4 linked regions of the Homo sapiens genome follow. The protein of the gene in region 4 purifies or fractionates together with the protein of the main gene of each other region. This does not show direct contact. Each region holds a gene or a part of one and is shown on either strand. Other genes may lie near its edges. The genes, in order: CLTCL1, KLHL15, NEDD1 and C10orf88.

Region 1 (6,120 bases), on a different chromosome or scaffold from region 4:
GACTTCGGTCGGCGCGGCCGCCGCGCCAGTGCCGCGGGGAACATAGGCTGGGGCCCCACGCCCCCATGCCCTCACCCCGTTGTCCCGGCGAGGCGCAGGGGGTGACAGACGGGAGGCGGGCGAGTCCCAGCGCGCCGGGTGGGGACCAGGACCGCGCCTCCACGACTCCCCAGCCCACGGCCCAACCCGGAAGTGGGGCGGGGCCTCAGCGTCCCGGGCCCACCCAGAAGCGCGGCGGGAGAGGGGTCCGCGTCCCGGAGGGGCCCACCTGCCAGGATCGCCTTCCCCGGGTGCGTCAGCTTGGCCTTCCCGGACGCGGGCGCGGCGGCCGCCAGAGCGCGCGGGGCGCGGGGCGCGGGCATGGCGGGCGGGAGGCGGGGCGCCCTGTGGCGGCTTCGGGTCCGAGACTCCAGAACTCCGCGCTCGGTCCGCGGTGGCGGCGGCGGCCGGTTATGGTCCCAGGGGCGGGGCGGCCGCGTCAGCTCCAGGTCCCGCCCCGCGTGGTCCGAGCCAGGCCCCGCCCCCAGCCCGCCCCGTGCGGGCCGGGAAACTGAGGCCTGGGCGGGGCGCGCCGAGGCAGGCGTAGGGGCGGGGCCAAAGCGCAGCCAATGGCCGAGGCCGAGTCCCTGGGCGACCGCGAGCGGCGGGACGGGGGCGGGGCTGCGGGAGGCGGAGCCGTGGCCCAGCTCCGAGCAGTGGGTCAAGGTGCACTGTGTGCCGCGCCGCGGGATAGCGGGCCTCGGGTCTGCGCGACTGTCGAGAGCGGCGGGATCCCCAGGGATCCCGGAGGCCAGGGGCACACCCTCCCCGAAAACACGTGGGGCTAGCCCAGTCCCAGAGGAACTCTAACGTTTCAAACCTGGAGGCGGGAGGCGGGAGGCCGGTGAGAAGGGGCTACGCCGCCGGGCCCCCCTCCCGCAGCAGCCACGGGCCGGGCCTCACCTGCCGGTTCCCACCCACACCTTTCCCGGTTGTAGTTTCTGCGCTCAGCGAACAAGGTCAGGAAAGACCACAAATGCAAGCGGCTGTATTCTCCTAGGCAGCTTGTCTGGGCAACGGAGGTCCCACACCCCAAAGAGGACCCAGCAAATCTTTAATGGACTGCGGGGCCTAGGAAACTGGCCCGTCCCTCCTACCCATACCAGCACCAAGCAGAGCACCTTTGCCTGGATAAACCGACTTTAATATTTATGATTGCCAAGAGGCTGAGAGTCCTTTTATGAGGTCCGGTACCTCCAAACAAGACGTGTTCATGTAGTCTTCAAACTGGCCTGGAGGGGGCAGCTCCAGCCAGTCGGAGGCGCCCAGGAGGAAGGCCTGGCTCCAGCAGGAGGGCCCACAGTCCAGTCTCTGTTGTCGGCTAAAGCTGGTCTTGCGCCGTCAGCCTCTACCCTGGCCTCCCCAGGCTCTGGGATGGCTCAGAGGTTGCCGTCATTGGGTTTCAGCAAAAATAAATATTGTCCAGGTGTCCCTGCCTCCCATTGCGTCCCCTGTGCTGCTGGAGTGACATGCTCCTTGGAGAAGTTAGTAACTCTGCAGGTAGGGTGGGTGGTGACAACGCCCACTACACGCGGAAGTTGTACATTGGAGGCTGGCGAAGTTGGGAGCAGAGGCATATCCATAGGGGAAGCTGGCAGGGGCTGGGCCCACGGCAGGGCCTGCAGAGGGGGAAGCCCACAATGAGCAGAGCTCTTCCTGCCCATGGGGGTCCTCTCCTGGCTGCCCCTGAGTAGCCCGGGGCCCAGGGAGCAGGGTCTATAGGACCAGCCCTTACCACCCAGACGCTGAGGCCCCAAGAGAGCAGGCATCCAGAGGCAAGGAGCGTGGGGTCAGCCAGAGAACCTGGCCTGGCTAGAGGATAAGCTAGTCTCCAAATGGGACACTTACTTAGTGCAATCAGCTGGGTCTCATTCATGCCCATCAAAATCTAAAAAAACCAGAATGACATTAATGGTGGAAGGACACACTCAGCCGGACGCTGGAGACCCGCCGGCGTGCTGCACACTCACACCACACCCTCAGGCCTGTGTTTGCCCCACAGTGTCCAAGCACCCCACAGCCTCTCCAGTCTGCTCGACAGCCAGGCTGCCCTGGGCAGGTTCTCAGGTGCAAAGCCCCTCCCAGCACACACCAGCAGCAGCCTTGCTGTCCAGGGGCCAGGCCCAGCAGGACACAGCAGTAGTTCACAGCTAGGCAGGCACCCCTATCAGAAGGCAGGCATCCTTACAGCAGGGAGGACAGCGGCCGTGCCAACATTCCTGGGCGTACACTTCTCCACACCCAGTAGCCACTGGGATCCTTCCAGCCCCCACCCATCTATTCCCATCCCCATCCAAAGCCCAGCCAGGTAAGGGCAGTGGGACTTTGACTCCCTCCCTGCTCCCTCCCCAGGGGGTTGGGGGCTACAGGTGCCACCTACCAAACACGAGAGGGGCAGGCTCTGTCACATGCTCCTCTTGCTTGCGCAGACTCTCCAAGGCATCCAGTTTGTCCACCTGCAAGGAGGCAAAAGCACGTGAGCACCCGCTTGACAGAGTGCAGTCCGGCCTCTAGGTGAAAGTGGAGTGGAAGGTCAGGACACAGGGCCTCCAGGAGAATGACAGTGGAGGAGGTGCACATGGGCAGATGTGGAGTGGCTCAGCCCACACCCCATGCACTTTTAGAATGCAGCAAGGCATGGAGAGGTGAAGCCTCGGTAGCTGGGCTGAGATGGAACGCCAGGTGGGGCCCCCAGAGCTTCCCAGTGGGCACTGGGGCAGTCAGTTGTTACAGGCTGTGCATGTGGCCTGCTTATGGGGGGCCAAGTCCTCCTCTGGATACAGGGACACTGCCACTTACCGACCTGCAGGGCTGGGGCCATGTGCAGGGAACACTGTCTGCTTCTGGCTCTGGCCAGTCTAGTTTGCCCGCCCCTCCAAACCAGCAGAGAGATCATGTGGCTCTCAGAGACAAGTCACCTGGCACCTAGACACTTCACCTGAGAAGCACTGAGGACAAACTGCCTCCTCACTCTTCCCTGAGGCTTCACCAGGCACTGACCCCACCCACTGCCAGAGAGCGAGGCGGCAGCACTGCACTAGAGGGGCGGCAGCAACTGTGCAGCTAGGATCCCCTCACAAACACACTGAGTAAGAAAGAGAAATAAGAATGTGCCCCCCATGAGCTGGGGTCTGGGGGGGGCTGAGAAATGAGGAGGAAGCAGGGGGCACACTTGCTGACACCTAGGGTGAGGGCTGAGCTAGGCCTGTACCCTCCCTACAATGGGAGAGCGCTGGGGGCGTCTCAGAGGGATGGCCCTCAAGCTTCCCAGATGAGCCACGAGGCCCCAGGCCCAGCTGTCCACCAGGAAAGGACTGTGCTTCTTGTCCGCGCCCTCATTCTCCCAGCACTGCTGTGTGGTGTCAGCTGAGCACCAGCTCAAGCTGACAATCAGCTCACACCCCCATGCCACTGACTGGGAAACCCCTTGCCAGCCCCCTCCTCTCCTTGAACTCTCCCCATGACAGGCGTCTCATCTGCCCCAGCAGGAATAGGTGGGTGGCAGCAGAGAAGGTGCTCCAGCAGCCACCACCTCCCAGGGCCAGTGGAGTCTGGGAACCCTGGGCCAAGGCTGTGCAGCCACAGTGTGGACCAACGTGATAGTGGCTGCTAACTCCATCATCCGCAACAGAAAGGGAATGTGCGCCTCAAAGTCCTGGGGGATCCCCACAAGCACTTTGACCCCCACAGCAATGACACTCCCTAGGGCCTGGTGAGCCTGAGTTCCTCTGACACTAACCCACGGGCCTCTACTGCCAGGAAGAGATTCAAGCACTTTCTTTCCTTGTGCTGGTTCTCAGAACACAGACTACTTTCAGGAAAGACACCCGAGGGATGGGAAAACCTGCTCATCATGGTGACAGCAGCTTCCACAGGCACGCACCAGACACCGCACACCACACACTGCATACCACAAACCACATACCACACGTGCCGCCTGTAGGGAGTTGCCATCCACTGTGGTGGGGGAACCAGGGCCCTTGTCAATCCAACCAGTCCATGTCCCCTGGCAGCCCACGAATCTCAGGCCACGTAGCCAGGGCTGTCCCTTCCTCCCCAACCCTTGAGAGTCATCAGGGAGTCTCACTCAGGCATGCTATGCAGATGGGATGGGGTCACACTGTCCTACAGGAGGGCAACGGCCTTGAATGGACTCTGGGATGGCCTTTATCAGGGGCTGGGCAGCCCCCTGGAGGCTCTGCAGGCGGCAGGCAGCCCTCCAGGCTAAAGCTGGCAGCATGAGCCCGCCTTCCTGTTTCCTTCCTACCTCCCACTCACCTGGGAGGCCCCTCCCTTCCCTCGCTCCACTGAGTGATGCTTCAGCATGAGTGCCTTCCGAGGCTCTCCATCTGGCTTGAAGGAGGTTAGATAGGCAAGTAGATGCTACTGGAAGTAGCTTTTCCAGTGTTAGAAACAACAAACTGTACCAGATGACACTGCTGACACAGGTCTCTGGACAGTGGCTAAAGCTAGATCCCAGCAGGGACTCCTAGGACTTCAACACCCAGGGAGAGTTTTACAATCAAGTACTGTCACTTCGATGAGGCAGAGAGTCATCCTCCCTATAGCTGTTAGAAGGATTCAGTGGATCTGTGAATACTCCTACTATGTGTTCAGCAAAAGGCAGCTACCACCAACCGTATGCTAACAGCTGCACCCCCAGACGCCACTGGGAGCTCCTCAGGGAGCTGGGATTGCCAGCCACCTCACTGTCACCTTGTTGAAGTCCAGGGCTGGGGATGAGCACGCCTGTTGTGCTCCTAGCAGTGTGCACATTGGGACAGCTGCCCAGCCAGAGTCTACAGGAGGGCTGCTGCCAGTGGGCACTCCCCATGATGATTTTCTGGAGGGGCTTAACGTTGGGCAGAAAACCACTTCAGCATGAAGGAAAGCAGCCACTCCTGAAGGCAGCCAGGGCTGGCTGGGGAATCTGGGTTGGCCTCAAAGGGGCCCACCCTTAAGACCTGCGGCCAGAGTCACTGCCAGGGTTGGGTCATGCCACACAGGGGCCGGGGAGCTGCAGCCGGCCCGGCACCTACCTTGCTCAGGTACTCCCTCATCACCTGGATGAAGTAGGGCATGGCCAAGTCCACGAGGTTGTGCCTCCAGGCCAGCTCAAGCACCATGTCTGGGCGAAGCAGGTCATAGCAGGTGAAGAGACAAGCTGCGAAGCACTCCCTCTTGCCTTCCTCCAGGAACCACTGCAGCAACTTCTGGGCCAGCTCAGCATCCCGCGACTCTGCAGCATGCTGCATGGCATCCTGCAGCCAAGGCAAATGCTTGCTTGGGCATCCTGCAGGCAGAGGCTTTGTGCCTGCAGCAGCTGGGCCGGAGGGCAGGGAGTGGCACTAGACTCCACCAAGGACTTCCTGCGCTGTGGAGCAAGCCTGGACCCATGGCTGGGCCATTCCCTATGCCCTGCTGCCCACTGGTGAAACGGAGATGCCACCTCCGGAGGCTCTGGAGGGGACAGGTGGCTCACGGAGGCGCAGGTGCCCTGGGAGACAGGAACTCTAGCCCCGAGGGCAGAGGGCGTGCACAGGCTGCTCTGAGGAAGGCACTGATGGGAGTTTGGGGGTTGTGGGGCTGCTGCAGAGGTGCTGCACTCAGGTCCATGGAGCGTGTGACACCAGGGGAGCAGTTAGGAGGGGTACGGCTACTGCTCTAGAAACAGCAATGTGTTTTTCTTTCAAGTGGCTCAAAAACCCCTAACTGCTATTTTCATCCTTGCAAATGTATTTGTCTAAGACAATATCATTGACAAAATAACACCTGCACCTGACCAGTCCTGAAGAAGCCTGCACTTTCTGTGGCCATTCTCTATTTTCTAGCTCCACAGCAGGCACTGGATCACCTGATTCCTTCTATGGCAGGGGCTATTAGTACCCCATTCAGAGACCAGGAACCTGAGACCCAGATGTAGTCACTTGCCCAGGGCCACTCCACCTGGAGTTGGCCATGATCCACTGACTGTGACCTGTGCTCTCCAGGGATACCCTGTGGCGGTCCCAGCTCTGCATGCCTGCCATCGCCTGCAGCACACACCTCTGAGTTCCGTTTGGGAGACCCCTGAGGACGCCC
Region 2 (8,373 bases), on a different chromosome or scaffold from region 4:
GACCTCCTGGGCTCAAGCAATCCCTCCCACCTCAAACTCCCCAGTAGCTGGGACTCCAGGCATGTGCCCCCACACCCAAATAATTTTTACATTTTTTGTAGAGATAGGTTTGCCTACTTTGCCTAGGCTGTTCCCCAACTCCTGGGCTCAAATAATCCTCCTGCCTAGGATTCCCAAAGTGCTGGGATTATAGGCGTAAACCACCCTTCCTAGCCCTTCGGCTATGTTTTGCTCATGTAAACACCTTAGAATTTTTACAACTCTGTAACATACACTTGCCCTTAGGCTATGTTTTGTTAATGCAAACAGCTTAGAATTTTCATAGCTCTTTAACAACTTCAGAATGACCCAAGCTAGGCCACAGGTTAACAGCATGCTTCCTGCACTTTAGGGTCTTCTCCCTATTCTATTAGCTGTAACAGGAAGTCCCAGATTGGGAAGCAGCTGCCCTGGCTTTCAGTCTGGACAGTGCCACTTGGTCTGGAATAAGATCCTTAACCTTTCTGTGCCTGTTTCCTTATCTATAAAATGGGGATAACATGTAGATGCATGGCCAGGCGCGGTGGCTCACCCCTGTAATCCCAGCATTTTGGGAGGCCGAGGCAGGCGGATCACGAGGTCAGGAGATCAAGACCATCCTGGCTAACACAGTGAAACCCCGTCTCTACTAAAAAAAAAAAATGCAAAAAAATTAGCCGGGCGTGGTGGCGGGTGCCTGTAGTCCCAGCTACTCAGGAGGCTGAGGCAGGAGAATGGCGTGAACCTGAGAGGCAGAGCTTGCAGTGAGCCTAGATCGTGCCACCGCACTCCAGCCTGGGCAACAGAGTGAGACTCCGTCTCAAAAAAAACCAAAAAAAAAAAAACAAAAAAAAACCATGTAGATGCTACCTATATGTACGGTAAGAGCACTTAGTACATGACCTAGCATAAATATATGTGTGTGTGTGTGTGTGTGTGTGTGTGTGTGCTCGTGTGCACATGCAGTGTTCAGATAAACAGTATTGCTGCCTCTAAGGAACTCAGGAAATTTGGAAGCCTTGGCCTCTTCGATGATGGTCCCACAGAATACTTAGTACAAAAATTAAGACAATCTGGCCAGGCACGGTGGCTCACATCTATAATCCCAGCACTCTGGGAGGCCGAGGCACGAGGATCACTTCAGGCCAGCTCAAGACCAGCCTGGACAACAGTGAGACCCTATCTCTACAAAAAAAAGTTAAATATTAAAAAAGAAAAAAGTATACTAAAAAAAAAAAAAAAGTTAAGACAATCTTATCTTCACCTAAGGAGAAAATCCAGTAGAGGACTACATAGATACTGCAGAAGGATAAACCCAAAGATTTCAGCACAGCTAGAGGACATGACTTGTGTCCCTAGAACGAATGGGGGCTTTTCCTTGGGTTGAGGCAGAATGCCCCCTTCCCTACACTATTAAGTCACTGTTCAAATCTGTTACTACCAAAGGAAGAATTAAGAATCTCCACACACAAAAAATTAGCCAGGCATGGTGGTGGGTAACTGTAATCCCAGCTACTCGGGAGGCTGAGGCATGAGAATTGCTGGAACCCAGGAGGTGGAGGCTGCAGTGAGCTGAGATCGCAGCACTGCACTCCAGGGCCAGAGTGAGACTCCTCTCAAAACAAAACAAAACAAACAAAAACAAAACAAAACAGGATTCCCCAGGGAAAAAGAGCAATAAAAACAATAGGAAAAAAATCAAAACATCAGAGACAAATGATTTACATAATTGATGTGGGGCTGATTATCACTAAACAAAAAATAAAAGAAATACATTATTGGCTGGGTGGGGTGGCTCACGCCTGTAATCCCAGCACTTTGGGAGGCCAAGGCGGGTGGATCATGAGGTCAGGAGTTCGAGACCAGCCTGGCCAAGATGATGAAACCCTGTCTCTACTAAAACACAAAAATTAGCCAGGCACAGTGGCTGACGCCTGTAATCCCAGCTACTCGGGAGGCTGAGGCAAGAGAATCGCTTGAACCTGGGAGGCAGAGTTTGCAGCGAGCCAAGATCACGCCACTGTACTCTAGCCTGGGCGACAGAGCGAGACTCTGTCTCAAAAAAAAAAAAAAAAATACATACATACATATATATAATTTAGTTTCAATTATTTCTGCCACATCAATACATTGAGAATAAAAGACAAAAATCCACAAAACTGAATTCTCAGTTTCACAGCATTTTGGAGGAAAAAAAAATATGTCAGGCTGCTGTTATTCAAAGGCGCAAATGGGTTTATTTTTCAAATGGCGTAGACAACCCTCCTTTGCAGATACTGTATTTTTATAACCAGGTCTAATAACTAAAGCTGAGGAACTATTTAACATGAAAAGTGACCGACCAAGTTTTCAGTGTGCTTTCTAGAAAAAAGAGAAGATGCAAGAAGTAAACAGAGCCCCAGAGGTAACCATGTGATTAGAAACCAATTAAGTTAAGCAATTACTAAAAGTGCTCTATGACCTTTGGGCAAGAAAGGATCACAAGTGAAACTCTGATATAAAAATGAAAATGCTTACATGCAAAAAAAGGCCAAGGCTGTTTCAGAGAAAGACTATTTTTAAGAGAACTATTTGCATGGTAAAATGTGCCCAGGGATGGTTGATCAATGTAGATAGAAGAGTTATAGTCTACTTGTTTAGAAATGCCAAAATGATGTTTTTAGACATATAACATGTTTTCATTGTCAAATTTAGTTAGTATTCACAGTAAAACGGGGAAAACCAGAAGGTAAGAGCAGGGAAGAAAATCACCATTAGGGCCTATTGGTTTTCAAGAGCTATTTTGTACGTCCTTGCTATATTTTAGAGGAATAAGAAACTCTATTAATGTATACCATGCAGAACTCTTCTCAATGCCAATTTCTGCATGTATTACTTAAATTTATTTTTAAAAAGAGATCTAGCCTGACTCGGTTCCGATTTAATTGATGAAATGAAAAGAAAAGCTACAGCAAACATGTAATATTTTGCATAAAGTAATTATGCTTCAACTTTAAAAGTACTTTTAAAATAAAACTGTTTTACTACCTACGTGGTTTATCTTTCACCCACAAAATGTATTTTACAAAACCTAAATGCACAACAAATCAGGCTTCTTATACATAAAGTACTCTTATGTTATTCATTCTTGAATAACATAAGAAATAACAAAATGAAGTTATTCATTCTTGGCTCTTAAGTCTGTGAATCTTATCTATAAAGACATACACTGCCTTAACTAAATGATGAGTACTGTCTATTGCTTTCAAATGCACTAACCTTCTCAAAAACGCTGGTTGGGGTCATCAAGCAAAACCGGATATTCTGAATGATGGTATCGGTATGTCTCCAGCGTCTTCTATCATGCCGCAGCCAAGACTGCACAGCCTCGTACAGCTCTATCTCTGGGAACCTGCTCAGATGATCATTATCCAAGTAAGACATGAGCTTCTCAAAGCTCAGATAGGACAGAAAGTCAGGCCTAGACATGAGTGGCACAAAGTTGTCTAGCAGAAAGGTGTCTAACTTCTCCCTGACTCCCTCGATGTTTACGCCGAAATCATCTAAGAGTCTCATAATTTCTGCACAATTTTCTAGGCAGATCTTCGCTAAGAGAAAAGAGCAGCAGAACTTCACCACTTCTATAAGTTGAACATACATGGCAGCCTGAAGAATCTCATGAACGGTATTCATACTCAGCTCTATAGTTCCATAGTACATAAATTGCAGGACATGGCTGAAACCGGTAGCTGTTAGACCTTTTAAATGAATTTTGTCCTGATCTCGTTCCCTCATGTCTGCAGTAAACATAATTCTGAAGTAATCACTCTGGGTGGCCAAGAGTGCTTTATGGGCCTGGAACTGATGATCTTCAATAACCAGAGTGACATCAAGAAGCAATCCCTCCTCATACAGTGCTCTGAACCCAGCAGAGACACTGGTGTCGTGGATGGAGGAACAGAATCCTTCCACGTCCCCTGCCATGAATCACCTGGAAAAAAATCAAAGACAACAATGTTAAACACTTCCATGCATTCAGAAGAAAATATTAACTTAGAGTTTTAACAATTTTTGCTATTATCTCAATTCTACTGACTAAGTCCAAAATGTACAAGTCCTTTGGGAGAAGACAATCTAAAGGTTTGCAGACTAATATTTCTGGCTTCCCTATCTAAGGAAAAGAATCTATTAAAGATACATCAATAGTTCATGCCTATAACCCCAGCACTTTGGGAGGCCAAGGCAGGAAGATCGCTTGAGCCCAGGAGTTGGAGACCAGCCTAGGCAAGATGGCAAATCCCTGTCTCTACAAAATAATAACAATAAAAAAAAAAGTAGCTGGGCATGGTGGCACATTGCCAGCAGCCCCAGCTTCTTCAGAGGCTGAGGTGGGAGATTCCCTTCAGCCCACGAGTTTGAGGCTACAGTGAGCTATGATAGCACCACTGCACTCCAGCCTGGGCAACAGAGCACGACCCTATCTCTTAAAAATATATATGTCGGCTGGGCGCGGTGGCTCACACCTGTAATCCCAGCACTTTGGGAGGCCGAAGTGGGTGGATCACCTGAGGTCAGGAGTTCAAGACCAGCCTGATCAATACGATGAAACTCCAACTCTACTAAAAATACAAAAAGTAGCCAGGTGTGGTGGCATGCACCTATAGTCCCAGCTACTCAGGAGGCCAAGACAGGAGAATCGCTTGAACTCGGGAGACGGAGGTTGCAGTGAGCCAAGATCATGCCACTACATGCCAGCCTGGGAGACAGCAAGACCCCATTTCCAAAAAAAAAAAAAAAAAATATATATATATATATATATATATATATCAAACAATGGTAAATTGTTATCTTACAAATAATATATGCCTATTCCATTGATTTCATATTGTTCATCAAATATACTTTGAACAGGTTCCAAAATTAGCAACATAAAAATGATTTCACAGCCAAATACTAAATAATGAGAAAAGGGACAAAAATGAAACTAAAAAGTATACCTGAAAACTCCTAGAAATTTACCTAAAGGAAATATTCAAATAAATAGGCAAGTTGTACATATAAGGTTTTTCTATCTAGGCTTATTATTTAAAAATCAGAAACTATTCAAAAGTCCAATAACAAATTATTAAAACATGATACAGTCCTACAATAAATTATCAATTTAAAATGATGTCAACAGTTTATTTTTACAAAGAATATTTATCAGATATTGTATGAAAAAAAAAACAAGTGACTGCAGTATACTGAGTACGTCTTCGAAAACTAAATACGCATATATTTGTTAGATGAGAAAAAGTCTGGAGAAATATATACCAAAATAATGTCCCTGGGTAGTAGGTTTTCAGGAGAGGCTTTCTTTTCATTTACCTCATTACCCTTACTTTGAAAAACAATAATGATGTAATGCTTATATATTTAAAAATACAAATATATAATTTTAAAGGAAATTAAACCAAATCTTTCCATATCAGAGAAATGAAGGTAAAATAGAGAACTATAATTAGATATCTTAAATACAGCGGAATAAACTAATTCAGTCTATTTTTTTGTTTTCGGAGTCTTGCTCTGTCATCCAGGCTGGAGTGCAGTGGCACAATCTCGGCTCACTACAACCTCCGCCTCCCGGGTTCAAGCGATTCTTGTGCCTCAGCCTCCCGAGTAGCTGGGACTACAGGCACCTGCTACACGCCCAGCTAATTTTTGTATTTTTAGTGAAGACAGGTTTCGCCATGTTGGCTAGGCTGGTCTAAAACTCCTGACCTCAGATGATCCGTCTGACTCGGCCTTCCAAAGTGGTGGGGTTACAGGCGTGAGCCACTGCGCCTGGCCACTAATTCAGTCTACTGGGTTATTTATGAAGCAAATTAATTTTCTCCTTTTCACATACCCCCACCCCAGACCATCTATCTTCTTAATTCTCATCCTTACACAGCTCCCGGCTTCCTCCCCAATGACCCATCCTCCATCCCTGAATTCTCTCCCAAACCTTTCCACTGTGCCCTGTGGAACCTTACTTCAATGTAAACAAAATCCCCTACATGCTCAGGTTGGTCACAGAAAGTTCCCTCCTCGACCTGATTTAAATGAGACATAGTTTTCCTAAAAGTCACAGCTTCCAGGCCTCCTGCCTCCAACCTCTAGCTCTACTCCCACGCGTGTTAGAAAAAAAAAAAACAAAACAAAAAAAAAACTTTTAGAGCTTACAGCCCTACTTTCCAAGTCTTCTTTCTCTTAGCTTTCTATTGTTCTTTTTCTATAACTTGGCCTTTTGCTCAGATAAAAATCCATCTTCTGTCACCCCTTGTCACTTCCATACACATCTTCTGATCAATCACTCTCAAACATTTGATGAAGACTTCAACACCTGGGCCAGGCATGGTGGCTCACACCTGTAATCCCAGCACTTTGGGAGGCTGAGGCAGGCGGATCACTTGAGATCAGGAGTTCAAGACCAGCCTGGGCAACATGGTAAAACCCTGTCTCTACTAAAAATACAAAAATTAAAGGCCGGGCGTGGTGGCTCATGCCTGTAATCCCAACACTTTGGGAGGCCGAGATGGGTGGATCACCTGAAGGTCAGGAGTTTGAGACCAGCCTGGCCAACATGGTGAAACCCCATCTCTACTAAAAATATAAAAATTAACCAGGCATGGTGGCGGGCATCTGTAATCCCAGCTACTCGGGAGGCTGAGGCAGGAGAATCACTTGAACCCGGGAGGCGGAGGTTGCAGTGAGCTGAGATTGCACCACTGCACTCCAGCCTGGGCGACAAGAGTGAAACTCCGTCTCAAAATAAATAAAATAAAATACAAAACAAATACAAAAATTAGCCGCACATGGTAGCGGGCGCCTGTAGTCCTAGCTACTCCGGAGGCTGAGACAGGAGAAATCTCCTGAACCCAGCAGGTGGAGGTCACAGTGAGCCAAGACTGCACCACTGCACTCCAGCCTGGGCGACAGAGCGAGGTTCCATTTTCAAAAAAAAAAAAAAAAAAAAAAGCCGGGCTCAGTGGCTCACGCCCGTAATTCCAACACTTTGGGAGGCTGAGGAGGGTGTATCACCTGAGGTCAGGAGTTCAAGACCAGCCTGGCCAACATGGAGAAACCTCCTCTCTACTAAAAATACCAAAATTAGCTGGGTGTGGTGGCTGGCACATGTAATCCCAGCTACTTGGGAGGCTGAGGCAGGAGAATCGCTGGAACCTGGGAGACGGAGGCTGCAGTGAGCCAAGATCGCACCACTGCACTCCAGCCTGGGCAACAGAGCAAGACTCCATCTCAAAAAAAAAAAAAAAAAAAGACTTCAACACCTGGCTAAGTCATCTTTCACACCTCTTCAATGTTCACATAAGATCAGCCATCCAAAAACTGTAAGTCAAAACTCCCTGACCATCTCAACTCCTACAACCTCCCCACTTATTCCATTGCAAACCCTACTCCCACCCCACTTGGACCTGTTCCTGATCCAAAACTGGTCTACATCTGAAATCTTAACTGTCAACTTCCTACTTAACCTTCCTACTCTCTTTTCACTTGGTCTATCATCTCCTAACTTAACCTCTGTCCTTCTCCAGCTTAGACCTTACCATATCAGAGCAACCACTTTCTTACCAGGGCCTTCATTTCCCTTAACTCTCTGCCTGTCCTCCATCCCTGCCCTGCTAAACAAAAACTATGCCAACTGGTCCTTTAATCTTGGGCCAATCTTCAGTGCCTCTTGGCAGTTTCGTCCACCGAACAGTTGTGAGGCATTCCCTGCTGGTATAACACTGAAGCACTATCAAAGATGTTCCCAAACTAAGGACAGCAGATATGGACAAATCTCTGGGATACTACAGCCATTTTTAAGCACTTTCTAGAATATCTCATGACTTGGAATCATATGTTGCAGCTATTTTCTAGAACATGACCTACAAACCACACTAGCCTAAAAGAGCACTAAGGATGTGGCAGCCAACATCTACGGCTCTGAATTTCCACCAGTGACACTGCTGGGACCCAATCTCCCAAGTTCTGTCCTTCCCCTGGTTAGGTATTTATATGGACCCCGAGCCCTCCAGAGAAGCAGCGGACACTACAGTCAACTGCTGTCACTTGCTCTACACCTCCTTCTTTAGGGAGGCTGTCACTGCCAGTGTCACCACTCTGTCAATGCCTTCCCATTTCATTTACTAAAAGGAAGAGCCCTTGTGTGTGCCAGGTACTGTGTTAGGTATGGAGATGAGTGCCATTTGGGAATCCCTCTGTACTCTGGGTTTGGCTGAGCCCTCAGTTGCCAAGAAGGAAAAGGTGGCATCTATGTACACACTAAAAAGACGCCACTTCTCCACTCTCATGAATAAACTATCACTAGATTTACTACTTTGTTTCATCAAT
Region 3 (8,373 bases), on a different chromosome or scaffold from region 4:
CTCTCTCTCTCTCTCTCTCTCTCTCTCTCACACTCTCACATGCTGTGTTGGGGATTTCTAAGACCAGATTTGGTCATTCTCTAGGAGAACTCACAGGATTCTGTATATAGTCATACTCATGGCTATGATTTATTTTATAGTGAAAGAATACAAAGCAAAACCAGCAAAGAGAAAAGTGCATGGGGTGAAGGCCATAGGAAACCAGATGTTAACTTCCAAGGGTCTTCTCCTAGAGTAGATGTGCTTAACCCCTTCCAGGACCAAATTGTGACAACATATATGAAATGTTGTCTACCAGGGAAGCTAGTTAGAGCCTCAGTGCCCAGGGTTTTTATTGGGGGGGCTGGTTATATCTAGGAGTCCACTGCCTAACACATACCAAAATTCCAAACTCCCAGAAGGAAATTAGGTGTTCAGCTGTGGTTCAGCCTTAAACCATATCTATCACAAATAAGTTTAGGCAGAGTGAGTGAGCCACTCTTACGAGTTAAGGCAGTGGGACCCCTTCCAAAACCCAAGTTCGCAGATGCTAGCCAAGGACCAACCCTGAGTGTGGGACTTTTTAAAGATAGACAGTCTCAGGCCTGCTTTTCTACATACACATACACACACATACATGCACACACACGTACACATGCACTCACAGTATTGACGGTCATTCAGAAACTCTGCCACCACCATAACCAGTAACTTCTCAGAGACCTCCCATTGAAAGGATTTTAAGCAAAAGACAAATATGTTGAGATTTTTCAGGTTTGAAGATGTTAGTTACTGCAACAGAGTGCAGGATGGATAGTAAGCCACTGAGAATGGAAATGGGATAACTATGTAGTGGCTTAGGTGACAGATGATTTGTGCTTGATGTAAGGCCCTGGGAATCAAGAAGATAGGATGGAGTCAAAGGAACACTATATTTATGGCCATATATATGTGTGTATGTTCATATGTATGTTAAGATGTTTGTATTAATTTCTTACTGCTTTATAGTGCCTAGTAAGAAAATGATGTGAATGTATGTTCTTATCTGTGCAAAGGGAAGGCTTTTCTAAGCATAAATATAAAGAAGTATAGTTATAAGTCACTGGCAACAAGTTTGATAAATATAAATATATAAAAATTTAAAACTTCTGACAAAAAGCAAGGCAAAAATTCACAAAATTTAAATGAAATAGGGAAGGTATTTACAATGTATGAGAGCAGTTGCAATGTAAGAGCAGTTGCAAATTAGTATTTTAAAAATCTTCATAGCCCAATAGAAAATAGGCAAAGTAGAATAATGAGCAGTTTGCAAAAGAAGAAAGACAAATAGTCATTTCATATTTTCAACTGAGAACCTTTAAGGCATGAACATCAATGAATTACAATTTTTTTCATAAATTAACAGTTTTAAAAAAGGATAGTAATCAGAGTACTTGCAAATCAGAAGTAACCCAAATGTCTAACATGATATTATTTAGGTAAATTAGTATACTCATGCATTCATATCTTAAACAGCTATTAAAATCAAGTAGAAAACATTGACATGGCTGTTTATAATGAAGTATGATTCCAGGTTTTCTGTTGATACTCTACTGAATACACAGAAGCATACATACACACAGAAAAATACTTAAAGGATACCCCCTCAAAATGTCAACCACTTTTTCTCTGGGTAGTGGGATTATGGATGGTTTTTCTTCTTTGTGATAAAAAAAATTTTTTTCTATTAAATAATTATCTTAGTAGAGACTGAAAAACTATAACCTATGGTCTAGCCAACTTATTTTTGTAAAGTTTATTGGAACACAGCCATGCTTTTCATCTATATATTGTCTGTAACTACTTCTAAATAAGTTTTTGAAACCTTCCCCCCACCTTTAGTGAGTGGTATGTTTTTTATATTTAGAAACAATCTCCCTCCTCCACAAACATGCAACATTCTTACACAATAATGTGGTATAAGAAAAAATAGCATTGCTGCTTATACTGCCGGGATTTTTTCCCCCCCATAAGCTTCTTGATTTAATTCTTTTCTTATAAATAATTTAGTCTGGAACAAGATAGGGAGTTAATGACTTAAGTGCTGCTGATACTGAAATAAGTTAATATTTATTTTAAATATAATTTGGAGGCCAGGTGCGGTGGCTCACACCTGTAATCCCAGCACTTTGGGAAGCTGAGGCAGGTGGAGTGCTTGAGTCCAGGAGTTTGAGACCAGCCTGGGCAAAATGGCAAAATCCTGTCTCTTAAAAAAAAAAAAAAAAAAAAAATATATATATATATATATATATATAAAATGCACACACACAAGTAAATATATTTATATATATAAATTATATATATATAATTTAGTAAATCAGTGTTTTGTTTATCCAGGATTCTTAGCTAATATCTTAATGATATTCTAAAGAGAAGATTTAACAGATATAGAAAGTTAAGAAATGAAATTCTGTTAGTATTATCACAGAAATAATTGGAGACATTTAAAGAATTCAATGTGGTTACTTAAGGGTCTTTTAAAAAATATGTAAAAGATGGTTGAATGGTGGGTACATAAGCAATGATGAGCAAGTAAGTTATGAACTTCTGGAAATGGTGATGGCTACTGTGTACCTGATTCTGTACAGAAATGCTATTTAATCCTCAAAATAATTGTGTCAGGAAAACAAGAGTGTTTTCTATTATGTAGATGAGAACGCTGAGTTTTGGAGAGTTTAAGTAATTCACCTAAATCATACAGAGGTTTGCTGAGCGTCCACTGAACTTAGGTTTATCTGAAGGGAACATTTATCATTATCTTTAGCCTTTTTTTTTTTTTTTTTAAATAGTCTGCCATGTAGGTCCCAAGAACTTGAAGTAAGATACAGAATTTAGGTTTTGTCTTGATCAAGAATACATTTTTAACTGGTTATCAAGTTGTGTTAAAGACAGTGGTAAGCTCCTTGTTGTTTGATAGATGCAAACAGATTCTGGATAACCATGTTTTAAGGATGTTGTAGGAAAATTCCTGCTGTTGCTAAGAGGTTAAACTTTATGAACTTCGAGAATCTACCAGGTCTGTGATTTTTATGGTGTTTTTAAAAATTCTACTTGTGTATTTAGTCTAAATTTAGATCATGTGAAGGACGATAACTATATGAACTCCTAAAGTGCTGTAGAAATCTTTTTAGAAATCATGTTTTGCCTTATATTTTGATATGTTGTGTATGACTCTGTAATCATTAACATAATGCACTAAGTAGGTCTGTGTCTTTTATATAGTTAACATTCATGTAGTTTATTTTTTCTTGAATATGGACCAGAGAAAAGATTTGACTATTCAAGTGGATATACTTTTTCCCAACAAAAATAAAAATTATATAAACCAACATTTTCTCTTTGTACTTTAGCCATATGAAAATGGGCAAATTTAATGGGTTAACATATTAATTGTCTTAACTTAGGTGCCAGGTGACTAATAACTCCTTTTTGTTTTTTTTTCTTAGCATTTGGTTTCTGTATTTCCTAGACATTTTTTGTTGTTGTTGAGAGCTAATATATATTATTTGAGACATTTTAGAATTAAGTAGAATATAAATTCATAGGGAAAAATTAGCTTAAATGTAAAGTACTTAATTTTCCGCCTAGTAAATGACAACATCAATACAAGTTTGACAGTAACATTTTAGTAAAAAAGAAAAGTAGATAAAATTCAGTTAGTTTTAGTCTAAGATCAGTTTATTCAAACTAGATCTTTGTTTATTCTGGTCCATGGAAGCTAGGAAGAGAGAATATCTCCACTACCTGCAGGGATTTGTGTTTAGAGAAAGGCCAGCATTGCCCTCAGGCTAATGGTTTTGAAACAATGGATATAGTCCATCCCCAGTCTAGAGTGTTGCCAGTTTTTCCTTTGTGGTTTAATTTTTTTTTAAATTATGCTTCAGGTGTTGAATTGTCAGTGCATCAGATGCTCAGATTCAAACAAATGTATCAAAATATCTAAAATATAGAAAACAAATACAAAATATTATTGCTTTTTTTTTTTCTCCCAGTATTCCCTTATACTTGTTGATTTGACTGTGACAAGGCCTTTTATATATGGTGGATGTTCTAACCCTGATGAATTAATGTAGATAATCTCAATGTATTATATTTTTCCTCTGAAAGGAGAAGATTGAGGTAGCTATACTCCAAGATAATAAAATGACAAATATTAATAGGCTATTGATTGGTATGTTTCAGGTATTGGTATGTCATCTTATGGTCCACTGAATGACACCGTGGTTGTCATGATTGAAATTTGTTACCCTTTCTTTTCTTTTCTTTTCTTTTTTTTTTTTAAGACAGAGTTGGGTTTTTTTGTTTTGTTTTGTTTTGTTTTTAAGACAGAGTCTCACTCTGTCGCCCAGGCTGGAGTACAATAGTGTGATCTTGGCTCACTGCAGCCTCCACCTCCTAGGTTCAAGTGGTTCTCTTGCCTCAGCCTCCCAAGTAGCTGTAATTACAGGCGCCTGCCACCATGCCCAGCTAATTTTTGTATTTTTAATAAAGATGGGGTTTCACTAGGTTGGGCAGGCTGGTCTTGAACGCCTGACCTCAGATGATCCACCTGCCTCGGCCTCCCAAAGTGCTGGGATTACAGGCGTGAGCCACCACGTCTGGCTGAAACCTGTCACTCTTACACATCAGAGAAATCCTAAACCCCATGTGAATAGTGTGGTTGGCCATAATTTATATGGCTTATATCAAATGTCCTTATGAATGCTTATAATTACATAAAATTTATTCTTTCATTTTTATAGTCTGTTCGGCACTTGAAGTACTCCTTGTTTAAGAAATCACTACTGGGCAGTGTTTCGGATAATGGAATAGTAACTCTCTGGGATGTAAATAGTCAGAGTCCATACCATAACTTTGACAGTGTACACAAAGCTCCAGCGTCAGGCATCTGTTTTTCTCCTGTCAATGAATTGCTCTTTGTAACCATAGGCTTGGATAAAAGAATCATCCTCTATGACACTTCAAGTAAGAAGTAAGTGTGACATGCTTATTTCTTAATTTAGTAACAAATAGCTATTATTCCATTAACAGGCATATTTGTGATTTATATAGACCTCTGATTAGTGTCCAGGGGTCCTAAAGTTTGTACAGTTGATGGATCTAGTAAGAAAGAATTTTCTTCTTATGCAGAAAGAAATAGATGGGTTGCAGGTAGTATTTAGGGTACTTCTGAAACATGAACATAGAGAGATGACATCTTAATGATTTCACATTTTAATTTTAGCATCTTTTCCACAATATGATAAAATGCATATGTTTTTAACCCAAATGATTAATTTGCTTTAAAACTGATTAATTATCTAGAGGAAGGTTTAGAAACGATTGACATTTTGGGCTGGGTAATTCTTTGTTGTGAGGGGCTGTCCTGGGTATTGTAGGATATTCATCAGCATCCCTGGCCTCTGCTTACTAAATACCAATGGCCTAAATTGTGTCCAGACATTGTCAGATGTCCCCTGGTAGTAACCAGGGACAACCTGGGAGCACCCACTTGAGAAATACTGATTATGTACTGGTGTACATAATCCTCTAAGCATTTGGGCCCACTGTACCCTCTTCTTGTTAAATTTAGGTATGCTTAGTTAGCTAAAAAACAAAAACAAAAACAAAAGAATGCAAGAGTGATACAGTTGTATTCAAGATGCTTACCACTGTCTGTAGATCATGTGGAGTATGAATGTTACTACAAGGGAAGGTCCCACTGTCAGCCTTTATTATGATGCTAGAATTTTTACTGTTAGGACTTATTTGCTGTCTTCTTTTATGGAACAATTTACTGAGAGCCCAGTAAGCCATTCTTCTTTTCTACTATACACACCAGTAAAGAGCTCAGCTTCAGCAGATCACCATCCGTATTTCTTTATTAGCTTCCTAAGGATCAAGCATGTGAACTGTGTTCCTCTTAGCTTTTTGGCCAAGACTGTACAACTAAGAACAAAGTAACAGCTGCTCCCCTGTGAAAGGTCATAGTCCTCATGAGGCCTAAGCAGGTCAATAAATGGAAAGTGGATACTTAGGCCCTCCTCAACCATGAGGCCAGAGCCCCTGTTTGTGGCGTAATAGACAGTTCTGCTACATTCACTGTCAGAGTAATAATTAAAGAAATAGGTGCTGCTTCTATAAGATGCAGAATGTACCTATTGGAAGTGAATAGAAAAGTAAGATGGAATGTTTAGCAGTTCTCTATATGCCATTTTATTAGAAATGTCTCTAAGTCAAATTCTGAAATTATGCTTTAAACAAATATTTGGGATATGTGTGCTCTTTGACCAGTTTGAAGTGTTAATAACTCTGGTTTTGGTATATAGTTACTTATATAAGCTAATATACCTGTACACACTAACATTTCTACACATACTTTGTTCTCCTTTCCAAAGGCTAGTGAAAACTTTAGTGGCTGACACTCCTCTAACTGCGGTAGATTTCATGCCTGATGGAGCCACTTTGGCTATTGGATCTTCCCGGGGGAAAATATATCAATATGATTTAAGAATGTTGAAATCACCAGTTAAGACCATCAGTGCTCACAAGACATCTGTGCAGTGTATAGCATTTCAGTACTCCACTGTTCTTACTAAGGTGAGACATTTTCTTTTCAGCATTTTTTATTTTATTAAATAAATCTAACTCAGAATATGGAAATTATATGTGGTCAATTAAACAGTATAGTTTTGTTTCATAATTACATAATGATTTTACATGTAATGTATAATAATTTTAGTACAAAGCCATTTGATATTTAGTTTTAAAACTTTTTTTCTTTTTTTTTTCTCCTTATATATCTCTCTTTTTAAAAGTATTTTAAAAGACATTTTAATTTAGAGGGAAACTCAGGTCTGCCAGCAAGCTTAAGATTTGCAAGGAAAAAAATATATTTTTTAATCTAACAGGGAATTTATAAAATATTAATGTATAGTATGAAACATTAGTAACCTGAGCTTTTAAATATTCCATTACATTTCAGTCAAGTTTAAATAAAGGCTGTTCAAATAAGCCCACAACAGTGAACAAACGAAGTGTTAATGTGAATGCTGCTAGTGGAGGAGTTCAGAATTCCGGAATTGTCAGAGAAGCACCTGCCACGTCCATTGCCACAGTTCTACCACAACCTATGACATCAGCTATGGGGAAAGGAACAGTTGCTGTTCAAGAAAAAGCAGGTAAATGTTGCTTATATATTGTTGGAGGGTTGGTTTGTTTTTTTTTTGTTTTTTTGTTTTTGGCTTGCATATAATTAGCACATTCTTCAAGAACATAGAACTCAAATTTATTTGAGTACTTAGGTAAAATTAGTAGAAGTGAAAATCATTGAAGAAGTGAAAATAGTAACTTTGGCTATTAATTTCAAAAATGATAAAAGGCCCTTATTGTTTAGCTAAACTTCTCTTGTGAGAAATATTGTCTTAAAAATGGAAGGAGGCTAACTCAGAAATTATTCATCCTTAATACTACTAAAGACTGAATGGCTTTTCATTGTGTCTTCAGATTAACCAGTAGAAAATATGAAACTTTGACACTGTCTTATGATTTGATCTCATTAAATAAAAATAAATGAGAATGTTGCAATTTCTAATGATTTCTTCTTCTCTCATGTAATTGGCGAAACAGTTCTGAAACAGGATTCATTTAGACTTTATTGATGTGTTATATGATAAGCTTTCTCTTATTGTAGAAAATATTTCTTGCTCACAATAAAAAAATATTCTGTAAATTCCTGAAAACCTTTTCATTTTTATTTTAAGAAGTTATGCTATACTGTCAACGTGCAACAAATACTTTAGAAAGTCTACATGGTATACTAGTATGTTTCTGAAATATTGTGCTTAGTAGAAATACATATATCCATGTCTTTTAAATTTTTCAGGATAAATACTTGGGCAAAAATATTTATTGGTGTTTTTTTTTAGCATGATTTTGCTATTTCCAAGTAGAAGCAAAACTTTAATTTGTTGATCTTGATAGTGTGGAGTAGTATTTTAAAGTAAGTATATTCACTATAAATTTCCTGTGAATATCTGTATCATCCTTATATAAGAGCCATTATATATTAGGAAAATAATTAAGTTCTTATTTAGGAACTCCTGGAGACAAAGACAACTGATATCTACTTAAGGAAGAAATTATTTTTGAAATATAACTTTGAGTAATGTCTGCCAACATGTTGAATTAACTATATTATGAAAATTATCTTTTTTCAAAATTTTCAAAAATTAAACAAAATAAAGATTCTCTCATTCACTGTAAACTCTCTGAAGTCTCTCCATTATTCATTTAGTTTTATAGTAAGAAGGCTCTTGTTTAACAAAGACAGCATTAATTTGCAAATCAAAGGCTTGGATCTTTCAGGGTCATGGA
Region 4 (9,296 bases):
TAGCTACCAGTAAGTAAGTGCTCAAAAACCTGTATAAGTAACCATTTTTTTATTTGAACTTCCATATACTATTGCCTCAGAACAAGCTTTCATATCAATCCTAGAGCTTCCCTGAAATAACCCTTTGCACTCCCATGTACCTCCATTGAACAGTTAAAAAAACATTCACCTTCAGAGAGACACACAGGTCCACATGTCAAACAAGGACATAGGTCAATACAGACTCATGATCCAAGAACTCTTAAGTGTTGAACCAAAGATGTGACTGTCTTCAACATTTTAAGGAAACACTCTTATTAACCTCCTACCTCTCAACCTCTCTATTATCCCCCTTTCTCTTTTTAACCCCATAGCCTTTTTCACCATTAAATATAGTATTTATTTTACTCATTGAGTCTCCTTATTGTCTGTCTTGCCCACTAGAATACAAGCAACATAAGTTCAGGCATTTCAGTTTATTTTCTTATTGCTAATTCCTAAATGACTGGTATAGTACCTGACATTAAGAGGCACTCAAATCTTTGTTGAATGAAGAAATTACTTTATTCAAATGGTTTTAGAAGCTATTTAATATATACTATCCAAAACAACATCTTGGGATAATCAGTCCTGTGAGTTTGCTATCTGCCTGTAAAAATCACTTATTTTTTCTTATTGTAAAAATAGGTTTCAATCTTCTATAAGTAATGATAATAAGTACAGAAGTTTAGAGATAAAAAGAATCCAAGAATTTTCTTCAGCTCTCTAATTTTACCCATGAGATAGGTCCAAAATCTGCCCAAGACTAATCCACTAGTCAGGACAGAACTGAATTAGCATTCAGGGCTTAAGACTTCCAATCCATTACCTTATCCCTAGACTCTGAAGACATAACTAACAGTTACCTTAACAATATTTTTCATGCTGAAGACAACAGTCCAATCCCTTTAACTTATTGGTTCTCTTGCTTGAAACTTCTCTAATTTTGTTCTTTTATAAATGGGTTTTTGCCATCACAGTTTATATAGTTTTTAAAAATGTTTTTTGCTCAATTTCCCAACACTTCAAAATACACAGCACTACCATATTAACAATACATTATCCAAGGTTAATAAATAGTCAAATTTTATTTTTATTATTTTTTTAGTGAGATGGGGTTTCACTCTGTTGCCCAGGTTGGTCTTGAACTCCTGGGCTTGAGCAATCCTCCCACCTCAGCCTCCTGAGTAACTGGGATTATAAACATGTACCACTGCACGTGGCTCATGGTTAAATTTTAAGAGAAAAAGTCTACTCACTGGTCACCGGGTGAAAAATTTAAAAAAAAAAAAATTTCTTAATTCAATGTTAAAAAGGGCTGATAATTTTTTAGAAAAGTAATTTCTTTGTACATGTTTACTAAGTATTTCTGAGCCTCATCTCTACTAAAAATTTAAAAAATTTGCCAGGCATGGTGGTGTATGCCTGTAGTCCCAGCTACTTGGGAGGCTGAGGTAGGAAGTTAGCTTGAGCTGGGAGATGACGTTGCAGTGAGCCATGATTGTCCCACTGCACTCCAGCCTGGGCAACAGAGCAAGATACTGTCTTGAAAAGAAAAAAAAAAGCAAGCAAGCAAGTTGGACTAATTGTATTACTAATCCAAAAGAAAACAAGCATACACAGAGTACAAAAACAACTTAGTTGTCAAATTAGTTTACAACTGACAACTTACCTTTATTTTACAAGCATGTGTGGAGGACTCCAATTTTAGATTTTTTTTATACAAAATGATCTTTTCATGTTCACTAAAAATAAAAAAGAATTAATTTTTTTTACTTACATATATTGTCACTTTTAATAGTTACACTTAAAAATAAATGTTTCCAGAACAATATTGAAATCCTAAGATTCAGTTTTCCTGGTGAGGCATGAAGAGTTGGGCTCCATAACTGAAGCACACTGCCTATGATTACATCTACCACTTACTAGGCTCAATGAGAAAATTACATTATATAACATATGTACAACCATGTAGCCAGACTGTATTTTAAAGCTCAATAAACACAGCAATTGTTTCCAACATGCAGGATATAAAACAGTTCATATTTTGTGTTAAAGACAGATTGGAGAAAAATCTTCGTAAGAAAAAAAATCACAAGTTGCGTTACAGGTTAATAAATAGGTTTATGTAGCACAGTCTTAGATCCCTCCACCATTTCTAATAGGCTTCCAAGAAGAAAATGTATTCAAAGTTCCAGACTGACTACCAAATTAACTTTCGGAAGACAGACTGCTGTGAGTTTAAGGAAAGAGACACACTTCTCAAAATTTCATTCTAATAAAACTCTTCCACTAACTAGCTATGACCTCCTACCAATTCACCTTGATTGTTAGTTCTAAATTTCAACATTTATAAAAATAACTAGGCTGATCTACACTGTCTTTTAAGATCTCTAAAGTTGTAAACTTCTATGCCTACTGGCACATTTTTATCTTCTCTCCCATAACATATGGTATCAATATCAGAGAATCAATAATTATTGCAAAAAGTGAGAAAAATCAAAACACTACTTCAGAAGAACACTTTCCCGTGTACAAGTCACACACCTGTCATCCAGGACAGTACAAACATTCTTGCCCCTACTGGTTCCACAGTACTCCTCTCCTAAGTACACTTCCATATTTCTTGCTGAACTTAAAATGCCAATAGAAGCGATTTCTTCACCTCCATCAGGGCCACACCTCAGGTAAAGGAAGCAGGGGTTTTCATCTTTGTTGTTGTGGTTTCTCTTCAAAATCACCAGATCCTGACTGAGAAGAAAATTGGTGAAAACATCACACAGTATAGTTCTCTGAACATGACTCTTCTTTTTTGAGACGGAGTCTGGCTCTGTCGCCCAGGCTGGAATGCAGTGGCTCCATCTCGGCTCACTGCACGCTCCGCCTTCCGGGTTCACGCCATTCTCCTGCCTCAGCCTCCCAAGCAGCTGGGACTACAGGCACCCGCCACCGCGCCCGGCTAATTTTTTGTATTTTTCGTAGAGACGGGGTTTCGCCGTGTTAGCCAGGATGGTCTTGATCTCCTGACGTCGTGATCCGCCCGCCTCGGCCTCCCAAAGTGCTGGGATTACAGGTGTGAGCCACCGTGCCCGGCCGGGGCTTCTTTCTTCTAACTCACTTCCACTTGCCCTTGAGGTCCAAGCACCTTCCCAAGCATCCAAGAAGCGCTCAACACAGAATTCATACGGAAATGAAGGTGTCACACATCAGGGCTTTCCCAAACTCTATTTTTTCCTCAATCAACATTCTACTCAATCCCCTGCAATTGACTCTCGGATAATTACATAAATCACTGGGCACCTACTGGGTGCAGGGCACAATGAAAGACAAAAGTGTATCTTTTTCGAAATTAAGTCGACAGCGATCATCTATAGCTGGACTTTTTACACAGCCTGTTTTGGTGGACAGGAGGTGTCTTGTTTGAGGGTAGAGGGGCGGACTGACTTTGACAGCAGCCCTGAGGGGCTATCACGCCTGATGGGGACGTTATATGAAATTCCGAGTCCGGGTCACCTTCCCCCTCTCACGCCCAGGAGCCTCGGCCCCTTCCCGGCCGGACCCACCCCCCTCCGCCCACCCCGGACGACCTCGCAGCTCCCCTCCCCAACTAGAGACCTGGTACCAACTGCTCTCCCGGATCCCGGGCTCAGACCCTCTCGCCTCCCCTCACAGCTCCCCTAGAAGCGCGGCAGTTGCCGAGCATAGCGACCCCGTCCCCGTCGGCCCGGCGCACCCTGGAGCAGGCGGTGCCAGCAGCTCCTCCCAGTCGAAGTCACCGGGGCCGAGACCGGCCCGGGTGAGGAGGAGGCTGTGGGTCAGGGCCCCGCCTGCAACATCCCAAGAAGAGGCCAGCGTGGGGCGGCGGGTGAGGCCCCCGTCCTCGGTCCGCGTCTCCATTCCGCCGCCTTCAGTCAGGCCAGCCCAGCCCCGGAACCTCTCTTCCAGTGCTTGAATTTCCGCCGGTACAGCGTGGAAATGGGCAGGCAAAGCGACTTCCGGCTCACTCCGCTTCAAGTACCCGCCGCTTCTTGCTTTGGTGGGGAGAGCAGGCACCAGAGACACGCATGCGCATGTGCCAGCTGGCCTCAGGCGCGGCGTTCAAAGTGTGCGGGGAGGAGGTCGAGAGCGGAGCATGCGCACTGGCAGACCCTTGCTCTTTCGCTGGAGACTATGCGCAGGCGCGGTGCACTGCGCGCCGGCACGAGGGTGTTTTCGACGTTGGCTGTGGGGAAACAGCAAGCGGCGTGGACGACCGTTGCTGAGCTGGTGTGGAACGTCTGTGATCAGGTAGGTGTAGTCTCGTCGCTCTACGCTGCGTGCAAGACCGACTCCTGACCTCGTTCTTTCCCAAGGGGACGCCAGGGCCTTTTCTGCTTCCATTCCGTCGGATCTGCAGCATTTGTGGCAGCTAGCGCGGCGGACGCGCTGCCGATTCGGGTTATTTTTACTTCGAATTCTCCTAGCCTCCCTCACACATATTCTCGCTTTAGAGGGGGGCTGAAGCGGATGATGGGGTTTTGGGGTTGAAGGGCATCTGTGATGGGCATTGAGCCACGCTGGCCTTCGCCGGGTGCTGTCTCAGCTGACGCCCCCTGACCCCATGTGCAACCCTCAGGCCGCAGGAACCCGGGCATCCAGGGCTGGACGCTCTAGGTGACAGAAATTTGAAATGCAAGAAAGACCCAGACACCGAAGGCAGGGGCTGCCCCATGAGATCGCTCCTCATGGCACTGGAAACAGCGAGTGGAAAGGGGGGGTCTCAGAACTCTGTTGAAGTAGAATATGAACTCAGTCTTGAAGGAACTTAAGGCTACGGATGCAGAACAGTGGGAGCAGATGGAACTTTCTAGATGCCCCACGGGATGGGACTGTATATAGTGTGCCCCCTCATCCTCCTCCTGTAGAGGCTTGTGCAGATTATTTTTCTGTCTTTTGAAAAAAGCAAACTCTGAAATTCCACTTGTCTATAATCTAGAGTTCCAAAGTTGTGTTTAAGGTGGTATCCTCTCTAGGAAATAACGTTTTTGCTCACCCATACTCTAATTTTCTTTCAGAGCTGTCTATTCTGGGTTCATGACTCAGTGCGCATTACTTTAATCTTTTTGCTTATGTTTTCGTTTGAGTTTATGTACTAGGACTTGTGCCCTCTAGCTAAAAATGAGAATAAACTTTGCATTCTGTTTACCTGTGTCAAAGCAAGAAAAATGATGACCAAATGTATTTTTCTATAAGTAATCACCAGAATGTACGTATGGTAGGTGAATTCACCAAGATTGAAAGAGAGAAATGTCACCAAAGGTCTATCATAGCAGAATTGTAAAGTCCTCGTTTGCAAAGATTTTTTTAATATTTCAGACTCATTCTAAGTTGTCCTTGTCATTATTTTTGTCCTGTATGTCCTGCTTCCTGTGGTTGTAAGTTAACTTTGATCCACATTAATACATGTGGACAATCCGAAGGAAAATAGGCTCTTCAGAAACTAATCTGCAATTTCATGAGCAATAGCAATATTATAAACTGGATTTTGACTTCCTTAAATAAAGCTGAATGTCCAGGAATCAGAAAACAAAAGATTCCTATGGTCTATCCTTTCCTTTATTTCCATACAGCCAATAAACCACCAAGTCTTCATTTTCTTAAAGAAAAATTTTCCTATCTCTGCTTCTTCTGTTTCCAAGCACTAGCTTTATCTGAACAATTCCAGGAGTTTGTCAGTAGCTTTCATTTTGATTCCTTCCATTTCAGTCTTTGCACTGCCCTCTTCTCCTTCTGGTGATCAATGTTCCTGACTGAATCAACACCTTCACTCCTTAGCATAGCATGCAGAGTCCTTTGTACTTTGAACCCTGCCTACCTTCCAGTTTCCTCTACCTAGAATGCCATTTTTTTCAATAGTAGGAAAAATCCTATTTATCATGCGAAACCAAGCTTACTTCATCCTGCTACAGAATTAAACAAATTCCTCTGTGCTACAATTACCACTTTTTTAGGTAGTATAATTCTCCTTTGATGTCAGACTTTGCCTGTTTATATATCTGTGTTCCCTACTATCTGCATGCTTGCTGAGATAGACATTATGTTGAGTACAGGTTTGTTGTATGGAATTGATAGGTTGGTGACAGCTTTTATCACATAAACTAAGAGCAGCAGAAAAAGGAAAATTAGTACATTCAATCTTAAGCTTTTTTCCAAAGCCAGGATGGTTATGGTTCAAAGCTGACTTCAATCTTAATATGATACATTATTCTTGTCATGAATTACAAGTGAGTTTTTTGCTTTACTTTTCTCTTTGAAGTAAATCAGAAAATATAGTTGGTGATATGGTTGGCTGTGTCCCCACCCAAATGTCATCTTGAATTGTGGCTCCCATAATTCCCACTTGTTGTGGGAGGGACCCCGTGGGAGATAACTGAATGGTGGGGGCAGTTTCCCCCATACTGTTCTCGTGGTAGTGAATAAGTCTTGGGAGATCTGATGGTTTTATAAGGGGAAGCGCCTTTCGCTTCGCTCTCATTCTCTCTTTCCTCTGCCTTGCTCTTCTGCCATGATTGTGAGGCCTCCCCAACCAACCACATGGAACTGTGAGTCCATTAAACCTTGTCTTTATAAATTACCCAGTATCAGGTATGTCTTTATCAGCAGCGTGAAGATGGCTAATACAGTTGGAAATTTCCCACCAGTAATGATATGCAAGAACTCAATATTTAGGAGCATATTTCAAATCTGTTTTCAGAATATGAGCCAACGCACATTTGAAAGGTACATTTTAGAAAAAAGTAACTTAGGATACTAATTTTCTTGAGCACATTCATTTAGTAATGCCACAGTTTAGATGTTTTGACTATCTTAAGTAGATTGAGTTCTTACTATATATGCCCTGCCTTTTACACAGGAGTATACTTCCCAGCAAGGTGGTTATAGGAACTTAACTTCCTTCTCAGGACCACTTGAGTTGTACCTTCTCTCCTCCTTTCCCTCTCTTCTGGTCCTTGCAGGTCCCACAGTTGCCAGGAATTCCTTCTCACCCTGCCTCAATACAGGGCCTGCAATTTTAACAGAGTGGAAAAGAACAACCTTCCTATCTTTTTCTCCCAACTTCATTTATAGCTGCTTTCTACCTCATTTTAACTAGAACCTCTGTTCTAGTTAGAAACATTGTTAGACTGTATATCATTTTCAATACAACCTTTCTGAGGAAATGTAGAAATGCTGCAGAAGCTCTCGAACTAGAGCTGAATCTGTGCCCGCATCCATGATTATCACCTGTATGACGCTTTCTTATCCTAAAACTCTTATGCAATAGTCGATGGCCATACCACCCTGAACATGCCCAATCTTGTCTAAAACTGTTATGCAATAAAGGGTTAACTCAGGAAGTCTGGGAGGTTCAAACCCTGCAGCTTCCAAAGAAGTTGGCTCTTGACCAGCTCTGGGAAGATGACCGCTAACCTATTGGAATGTCCTGCCTGATAAGAGTGTCTTTGTATACCTAGCTAGCTTATATCAACAGTGTGATTTATATAGTAAGGCCACACTTGAGACACACTCTGTCAGTTTGATCTCTGGAGCTCAATTTTAAATAATTATTTAAAATTAAATAAATAATACTCTATACCTATCTAGATACAAAGAAAGGTTTTTCAGGGTGAGGTAGGTGGGAATCACATAACCATATCTTGCTGCTAACTGTGGGCTTTATAACAGAGTTCCTTAACACTTCGGTTTCAGAACCCTTTTACACCTTTATAGCTTTCTAATTAAAAAATCAACAACATTGTTCTTGAGTCTGTAGTAACGTACACTAATAGGAATGAGTACTTAAAGAATGGATTGAAAAGATAACCACTGGGTCCCTCCCACAACAAGTGGGAATTATGGGAGCTACAATTCAAGATGACATTTGGGTGGGGACATAGCCAAACCATATCACCAACTATATTTTATGGTTTATTTAAAAGGGAAAAAGGAAAAATCCACTCCAGCTTCAGGACACCTGGCTTAAAATAAACTTTCTTAATGGACCCATTTCGTAAAAATGGTTTTATCCTGTTTCCTTGGGAACTTGGCAATAACTTAGAGGGTTTTAGAGTCTTAAAGGAAGGTCTGGGTGAATAAACTCTTTTTTTATGTTAACAAAGGAAAATAGCATCCAAGCTAAATCAGCTGTAGGATTTGTTATGTTTCGTTATGCATTCATGGCACTTGCACCTTCAGAAGAAGTAACTCATCAAAAATTCTGCATAATATGCTGTCAACTCATTTGTAATATTGCACGTTTCCTACAGAAATAATCCATCTTTGTGCAGAATGATAGAATTTTGAGGTAAGTTTATTAACATCCCTTCAGGAATATGTTGTACTGTTGGGTTGCAGGTTAAGGGGAAGCCACAGAATCCTTTTTACCAGTTTTACTTTTGATAGCCGTGCTTTTGTATACAACATACTATGATGTAGTGTAAATACACCTGACAGCAATAACTTAAGCATACCCTTAGAATGACCCTCTATGGCAGATGTACCTGAATGTGTGTTCTGAGCTAGGGAATCCAGGGCATGGCCATCTTGGGGATTCGTTTCTTATCTATGATAAACATCTGATGCCCCAGACTTTCCCGTAGAACTTGGGCAGCACAGGAGATTGAGGCCCTGAGTTTTGAGTTAGATGAAGGTTGCCAGGTAGAGGTCATTATGGGGAGATTGTTAAGTGAAAATGCTATATAAACTGCATGCTCTTTGCAGGCAGTTGTAGTTTTCATGCCCAGCCCCTGCCACTGGGCTGTGCAATTATGTTGTCTAGTCTGCCGCCACTGGACTCTCCCATTTGTAAGCCCCTAATAAAACCCATGTCTCGTTTGCTGGCTCTCGGTTTCTTCTTTAGCTTCTTGAACCTGATGCCTTCTCTAGTGAGGTTAATGGGGCTTCTGCACAACATATGAACAGCCAAATGTAAGTTTTATTAATTTTTAATTATATTTTTCTTTACTTATTGTGGACATTTTACTTTCCTCACTTTCTCTCTTCAAATCAAGTATGAGCTTTTTAAATAGCAGCAGCTGTCTTTAGTTACATGTGAATCCCCAGCATTTAATGCATTGTCTGGTACACAAATATAAAGTGAATATTGAATAAGTAACAGCCTTAAAATACAAGGCCCTCTTATTAAACTGTTAAATTGTTTATAATTACTTTATAAATTATAATAATTTATAATTATACATTTATCTTTATAATTACTTTAAACATATAACAGTGGTAGGAAGTAAGAACACAGTGAGGAA

What was found.
Region 1: the proteins of C10orf88 (region 4) and CLTCL1 purify together in Homo sapiens (co-immunoprecipitation; 2 studies listed by BioGRID and IntAct, with this or other methods). This does not show direct contact.
Region 2: the proteins of C10orf88 (region 4) and KLHL15 purify together in Homo sapiens (affinity purification with mass spectrometry; 2 studies listed by BioGRID and IntAct, with this or other methods). This does not show direct contact.
Region 3: the proteins of C10orf88 (region 4) and NEDD1 purify together in Homo sapiens (co-immunoprecipitation; 4 studies listed by BioGRID and IntAct, with this or other methods). This does not show direct contact.

What each region holds. Positions count from the first base shown.
Region 1 is NC_000022.11:19,178,312-19,184,431, forward strand, and holds the end of CLTCL1 (clathrin heavy chain 2), read right to left. Parts: intron 5,301-6,120; coding exon 5,079-5,300; intron 2,496-5,078; coding exon 2,420-2,495; intron 1,928-2,419; coding exon 1,908-1,927; 3' UTR 1,888-1,907; intron 1,659-1,887; 3' UTR 1,162-1,658; downstream 1-1,161. Other genes in the region: SLC25A1 (tricarboxylate transport protein, mitochondrial), read right to left, coding at 1-44. UniProt on the Homo sapiens protein: Clathrin is the major protein of the polyhedral coat of coated pits and vesicles. Two different adapter protein complexes link the clathrin lattice either to the plasma membrane or to the trans-Golgi network.
Region 2 is NC_000023.11:24,002,713-24,011,085, forward strand, and holds part of KLHL15 (kelch-like protein 15), read right to left. Parts: intron 3,989-8,373; 5' UTR 3,982-3,988; coding exon 3,277-3,981; intron 1-3,276. UniProt on the Homo sapiens protein: Substrate-specific adapter for CUL3 E3 ubiquitin-protein ligase complex.
Region 3 is NC_000012.12:96,930,216-96,938,588, forward strand, and holds part of NEDD1 (protein NEDD1), read left to right. Parts: intron 1-4,760; coding exon 4,761-4,990; intron 4,991-6,395; coding exon 6,396-6,597; intron 6,598-6,982; coding exon 6,983-7,178; intron 7,179-8,373. UniProt on the Homo sapiens protein: Required for mitosis progression. Promotes the nucleation of microtubules from the spindle.
Region 4 is NC_000010.11:122,950,264-122,959,559, forward strand, and holds the start of C10orf88 (ATPase PAAT), read right to left. Parts: upstream 3,965-9,296; 5' UTR 3,916-3,964; coding exon 3,752-3,915; intron 2,770-3,751; coding exon 2,566-2,769; intron 1,764-2,565; coding exon 1,691-1,763; intron 1-1,690. UniProt on the Homo sapiens protein: ATPase that regulates mitochondrial ABC transporters ABCB7, ABCB8/MITOSUR and ABCB10. Regulates mitochondrial ferric concentration and heme biosynthesis and plays a role in the maintenance of mitochondrial homeostasis and cell survival.